Linked DNA regions of Homo sapiens: region 1 is linked to region 2. Evidence: fine-mapped expression QTL. A gene starts in region 2. The other region holds a variant in brackets. All regions are shown on one strand. Distances are from middle to middle.

Region 1 (2,907 bases), 150 kb before region 2:
GAACACTTGTTCTTCCTTCAAGCCCTGCCCATGATGTCACTTCTTCAGGGATGTGTCCGTGTATGGTAGTTATTTGCTTATACTTGTGTCATTTTCCACTAGATTAGTAACTCTCCAACTGGAGCGTGTATCACAATCACTGGAGGGTTTGTTGGAGCACAGATGGCTGGGCCCTACCCCTAGAGTTTCGGATTCAGAGGGTCTAGAATTTGCACTTCCAACACATTCTCAGGTTATGCTGCTGTGGCTGCTCTGGGGCCCACACTTCGAGAACCAGTAGCCTAGACTGAAAACTCATCAAGGGCAGGGGCAACACAGGGGGGTCGTAAAGTCCGGAGACACAGGCAATATTGTTTAATTATCAACCAGCCATGAATTCTGTGTTCACATACATTTCCAGACCTGGTGGTCATTCTGTATATCATAGCAGCAGCCGCCACTCTAGGAGCTAAGTGCTTTATGACATTATCTCATTTATTCCTCACCGCACCTTTATGAGGAGGTTCTATCATCCCGCTTTTAGCAAATAATGGGAAAACTGGTTCTTCGTATGTATTACTCAATGTCACAAAGCTTGTATTAATAGAAAGCAAGCGGGAAGGCGGCCTCATGTGTGCCTGATTTCACAGGCTTTGCTCTTAGCATGATGGCACGGCTGCTTCCCAGCATCCTTGGCACCTTGCTTGGACAAACGAAGTGCTCAGTAAGTTCTTGCTGAATGAGTGAGTGAATGAATGAACGACTGGCTCACCGTTCGTTCCTATTTTCACAGTTCCCACAAAGGTTTATGACATTTGGTTGGTGGATGAGTTAGAAACTCAAACGACTTCAGACATGGATTCCAAGTAATAATAAGAGCCAGACAACCGGAGGAGTTATTTTGTTTCTTTTAGTGTGGATGAGGGAGGGAAATTTCAATGAGCAAATATTGACATTTGCCCAGGAGCAGACAAATGTGTTAATTGTGTGTCAAAAAGCTCTTTCTTTCAGGGTATTTAGGAAGTGACTCTCATGGTATCCACAACAGACGTTTTGCTCGAGTGTGCGTGTGGTTTTGAAGGTGTCATTTACTGGGAAGAGTGGTGGGAGGAGGAGAGAACAAGCGAAAGGTTAAAACGTGGGAGAAACGCACTGCAAGCCTGTATGCACTTACCGCAAGAATCCACAAGAGGGCTCCAGAGCACACATGATGGCCCCACAAGGCTTTCAGGGGGTTTGCTCACAGCGTCTCCCCAGGCTGAAGGCGCCTTCTCGGAGGTGACAGGGCCACCTTTCCCATCCCCTGCCACCTCCCAGCCATAGTGGGTCTGGTAGCTGTCTTTCTGATGCTTAAAGATCTAGCTATGTAACACCCATTCCTGCCCAACAGGAAGTGTTCCCCCGCCCCCTTGTCTCCCTCCTCCGCGTTCCTGCGGAAGCCGCCGCCGGTGAAACTGGCCAGTTCTGTCCCCAAGGGTGC[C/G]TCTCTCCTTCCCCAAGGTTGACAGGGAGGGAGACGTGGCAGGACGCTTTCTGCAGAGCCACACCCCTGATAACCCGGTTCCCAAGCTGGGCCCCTGCGGCTCCTCCACCGAGGGAACCCCACCCAGCCGTTGGTCTTCCTTGTTCTGTTCTGGAAGCTTCCTCCAGGAAGGTGCGAGAATGTGCAGGCAGGCAGTCCACCCACGGCCCTGGCGCGCCTACGGGCTGCTCAGCGCTTCTTGAGGGGTTGCAGGGAGGCAGAGATCAGAAGCCCAGGTCTCTGCCCCGCGTGCTTCCAGGCTGGGCAGTGAGACCCCGGTGAGCCTCCAAGGCTGTGCTGGGTCTCTGGGATTCATCAGTACAGACCCCAACCCGAACTGCGAGACCCCGGAGGAGGGGCCCTGGGAGGGGCGGGGGAGCCACCAAAAGCAGTTCTGTTGTCTCCAGAAGGCAGACAGGACAGAGCACAGGAGTGCTGGGGCAGCAGTTCTGGTACAGTGACCCCACTAGCTCTAGGCTTAGAAAGGCAGATAACACCCCAGAACAGTAAAGAAGGAGGCGGCCGAGGAGAAAAGGTAGTGAATGTGCTGGGCTTCAAAGAAGCCCATTTGCAGGTGAGGAAAACAGGCTGGATAGTCAAGTAATTTGTTCAGTCAGTGAGTTACTCAGGGATGGAGCTGGGCTTCCAAGTCACACAGGTTATCGTTAGCCAGGCATGGTGGCTCACACCTGTAAGTCCCAGCAACTCAGTAGGCTGAGGCAGGAGGATTGCTTGAGCCTGGGAGATGGAGACCAATCTGGGCAACATAGCAAGACTCTGTCTGTAAAACAAACTAAAAAATTAGCTGCATGTGGTGGTGTGTACCTGCAGTACCAGCTACTTGGGAGGCTGAGGAGGGAGGATTGCTAAAGCCCAGGTAGAGGTGGAGGCTGCAGTGAGCTAGTTCATCCCACGGAGCTCCCTTTGCTGCCCCTAGTTGGCATGTTCTGCGAGGAAGAGAGACCCATGTGGATGCAGTTCCACTGAATGGGCAGTGAGCCAGTCAAGTTAGTGGCCACCAAGACTGTATGGTAGGGAGTGGGGATGGCACCAGAAAGGTGGGGAGGACCCGTGTGTTTGGAGACCATGAGTAGGTGCCTGGGAAGCTTGGACTTGATCCTCTGAGCAATGGGGACCAGTGATTGTAGAGCAGAGGAGAGACGGGATCGCAGAGGTGCTTTCTGTGGAATCCTCCCTCCCTCACGCCACCTCACGCCTTCCCCATTGGAGTTGTTTAGGTGAGGCTTGCTTCTCCTCTTCTGGGCTCGCAGAGCAAGAACTTAGATTTGGCAAAGGGAATTTATTATCTCTGGTCCATCCGCCTCACCTGTCCTTGCTGTAGCTCTAAGATCTTCATGCTACCACATCTCTTCCGCCTTGGTCCCCCAGCTAAAGGCATGCACCCCACA
Region 2 (2,907 bases):
CAACGCTGATATGTTTCAAGACAGAGGTTGATGTGTCTGTGGTACTCTATGGCGACCCCATTCCATGGGAGCTATTTTGACAATACACACATACCTAAGACTGAGTTCCTTTGCATGCACATCATACTTCTATATTATCTCCACCTTGTGCTCTCTAATTTGCCTTGCTATGTTATCCCTATTTCAATTAAGATGCTTTCCCTCTCATCATATGCAAGTACGTCTGGTCTGTTATTCCTTATCTAACAGTTTTTATTCTATGTTCACTTCCTGCTACTCTTTCATTTTCTTGCATGTGTGTGATTTTTGTTTTTGCATAGAATGGCTCATCTTCTATTTCTCTTAAATTCAAACATATATTATGTGTGGGTGCAAGCAATCTGCCTATTTCATTTATGTCTTCTGGTAAGTCTTGCCTGAACATTTATATATTGAAAGACATCATGTTTTATTATAATTTATCTTTTTGTTTCTTTTTAAAAAATTATGTTAGCTTTCCTTGGTTTTGTTGTTGTTGTTTGGTTTGTTTTTTTTTGAGACAGGATCTCGCTCTGCTACCCAGGCTGGAGTGCATGGCTTGATCACAGCTCATCGCAGCCTCGACCTTCTGGGCTCAAGCAATCCTCCTACCTTAGCCTCCCCAGTAGCTGGGACTACAGGCAGGTACCACCACATCCGGCTAATTTTTTATTTTTATTATTGTAGAGACAAGGTCTCACTATGTTGCTCAGGCTGGTCTCAAACTCCTGGGCTCAAGCAATCCTCCTGCCTTGGCCTCCCAAAATGCTGGGATTACAGACATAATGCATTTTGTATGCCAGGCCTATTTGCATTTTTAAATGATGTATATAGGTAGTCTTTGAAATTCATTTCTTCATTTCTGGACACAGAAGACATTGCAAAGTGGATGTTGGCTCTCCTGGCATCAATGCCACGTCAGAACCACTGCTCTGCGATGGGAAAAAAGGATGTTAGGAACTAACTGCCTCTCTTTTTGCAGGCCCAAAGGACGAATCCATGTCTACACAGCTGGTGGGTAGACTAGAACCAGGCCTCCTAAATTGTGCAGTCCTGCCCCAACCCCAAATTCAGGGCTTTGTCTTCCATAGCTCAACATCACAGTCAGTCCAAAGCTTGGACGCCGCTTGGGGAAAGGAGGTCGAAGACCTTCACGTCTAACTTCCCCCATGGCGCTTTTGCCATTGATTTAACCCGATCTGGCTCTGCCATTAGGTCAACAACAGGCTTTGTGCTCAGTCGCTCATCGCCTCCCAGCGCCTAGCATGTGCAATAGCAGAGAGCAAAAAGCTTGACTTTCAAGATGAATTTAGTACATTCCCAAAGGGATGCGCAGATGCCAACTCTTCCCACACTATCAAACCAAGCAAGAAACTTGAGCACCCCCTAGATTCCAATGCTTCCACATACAATCTAAGTTTCGCGGAGCAGACGAGAGCCGCAGAACACCGCGAGGTGCGAGGAAAGGGTCAGGTGGGCGGTGCCTTCCCCGGGCAGGCGCGGCAGGTGGAGGGGCGGGGCATTGCCCTACCGGAAAACGGGAGGAGGGAGCTGGCGAGTAGAAGCACCTGCGTGGTGTGCGGGGGTGGAGCGGGGGCTGGAGGGAGAGTTAATGATTTGCCACAGGCTCATTTCGCAACTTAACCAAGGGTCAGCTTCCCGTGACCATGTACCAGCTGCGTCCTCTGGGCCACGCTCCACTTGCCCGCTTCCACCCGGAAAGCCCCCCAGGCTGAGTGCGGCATGATCTCCATCACCGAATGGCAGAGTAAGTGGGATGAGCGGGGCTGCAATGGGCTATCCAGGCCAGGCTCCCTGCCGGCTGGCTCTCTCTCCCAGCTGGGCTCTCTGTCACTACAAGCGTGACCTCTGGAGCCAGGGGCTGGGAGATGCTGTGCTGGCACCCTGGGGCAGCAGGCAGGGTGGGGTGTGGCTCCCTACCCTCCAGCGGGTGGGAGTTGCTCAGGGCCCACAGGTAGCTAGAGGCTGGTGCCCAGGGGGCCTGGCAGGTTCCCCATTCACACTGACCCCTTTCCCATCCCGGGTTCTTAGAACTGGGTTGCCACAAAGGTGGACTCAGGAGGCCTCTGCCCATTCAGACATCTTTCCCCACACCATCAAGGTCTCCTGTGGCCCTGGGGGCTTCTTATAAAAAACTAAACTCCACTCCCCTGACCAAACCACCATACCCTCACTCCTAAACATCCTTCCCCTTCTTTTGGGGGAAGAGGTAGGGAGGAGGTCTTGGAACAAGTCTGGGGCCATGGGAAGAACCGTGGCTCTGTGGGCTTCATTTGGGTGAGTTACTTAAAGCCTCTGAGCCTTGGTTTTTCATCTGAGAATTGGTGACAACATTCTTTTGTTCACTCAACAGATTTGTCTCTGCTGTGTGCCAAGCACTGTGTTGGATATAGAGTGTCCAACATTAAATGAAACTGACTCCCTGCTTACATTCTAGAGAGGGGAGACAGGTAATTAACAGAAAGAAGTATATAGTATATCAGAAGATGATAAGTCCTCCAGATGAAAATAAAACAAGAGGAGGCTATGGAGTTCGAGGTAGGAGGGGTCGCTATTTTATATAGAGTGGTCAGGGAAGCCTCACTGAGAAGGTGAGCCTTTATTCAGATCTTTTTTCAGAGATCTATAGGAAGTGAGGAAGCAAAGCCACGCAGCTCTCTGGAGGGGAAATGTTCAGGAAGCAGGGACAGGCAGTGCAAAGGCCCTGAGGCATTAGCATACTTGGTGTGTTTGAAGAACAACAAGGAGGTGGGTATACCTGGAGCAAAGTGAGGTGAGGGGAGAATCATAGGAGTTTAGGTCAGGGATGTCACTGAGGGGTCAGGACACTGGAGACTTATAGACCATGGTAATGACCTTGGTTTTGTG

Direction of the effects. Positions count from the first base shown, and alleles are read on the strand shown. Sizes are in standard deviations (SD) of each study's normalised expression.
With allele C in place of G in region 1, the expression in sun-exposed skin of the gene that starts at base 1,680 in region 2 is lower (small effect, 0.28 SD a copy in GTEx).

The links.
Region 1: its variant is fine-mapped to the expression of GOLT1A in sun-exposed skin (GTEx, PIP 0.93).

Annotation. Positions count from the first base shown.
Region 1 is chr1:204,362,106-204,365,012 of GRCh38, reverse strand. It overlaps a transcript of PLEKHA6 not described here. Among named protein-coding and RNA genes, the nearest start is that of PLEKHA6, 3.6 kb to the right of the region's middle. RefSeq lists an enhancer at 1,655-2,208. The variant C/G (reference allele first, on the strand shown) is at 1,460.
Region 2 is chr1:204,212,761-204,215,667 of GRCh38, reverse strand. GOLT1A (golgi transport 1A) reads left to right here and starts at 1,680. Exons shown (of 5, transcript NM_198447.2): 1 at 1,680-1,786. The coding sequence starts at 1,762. RefSeq lists an enhancer at 1,153-1,809.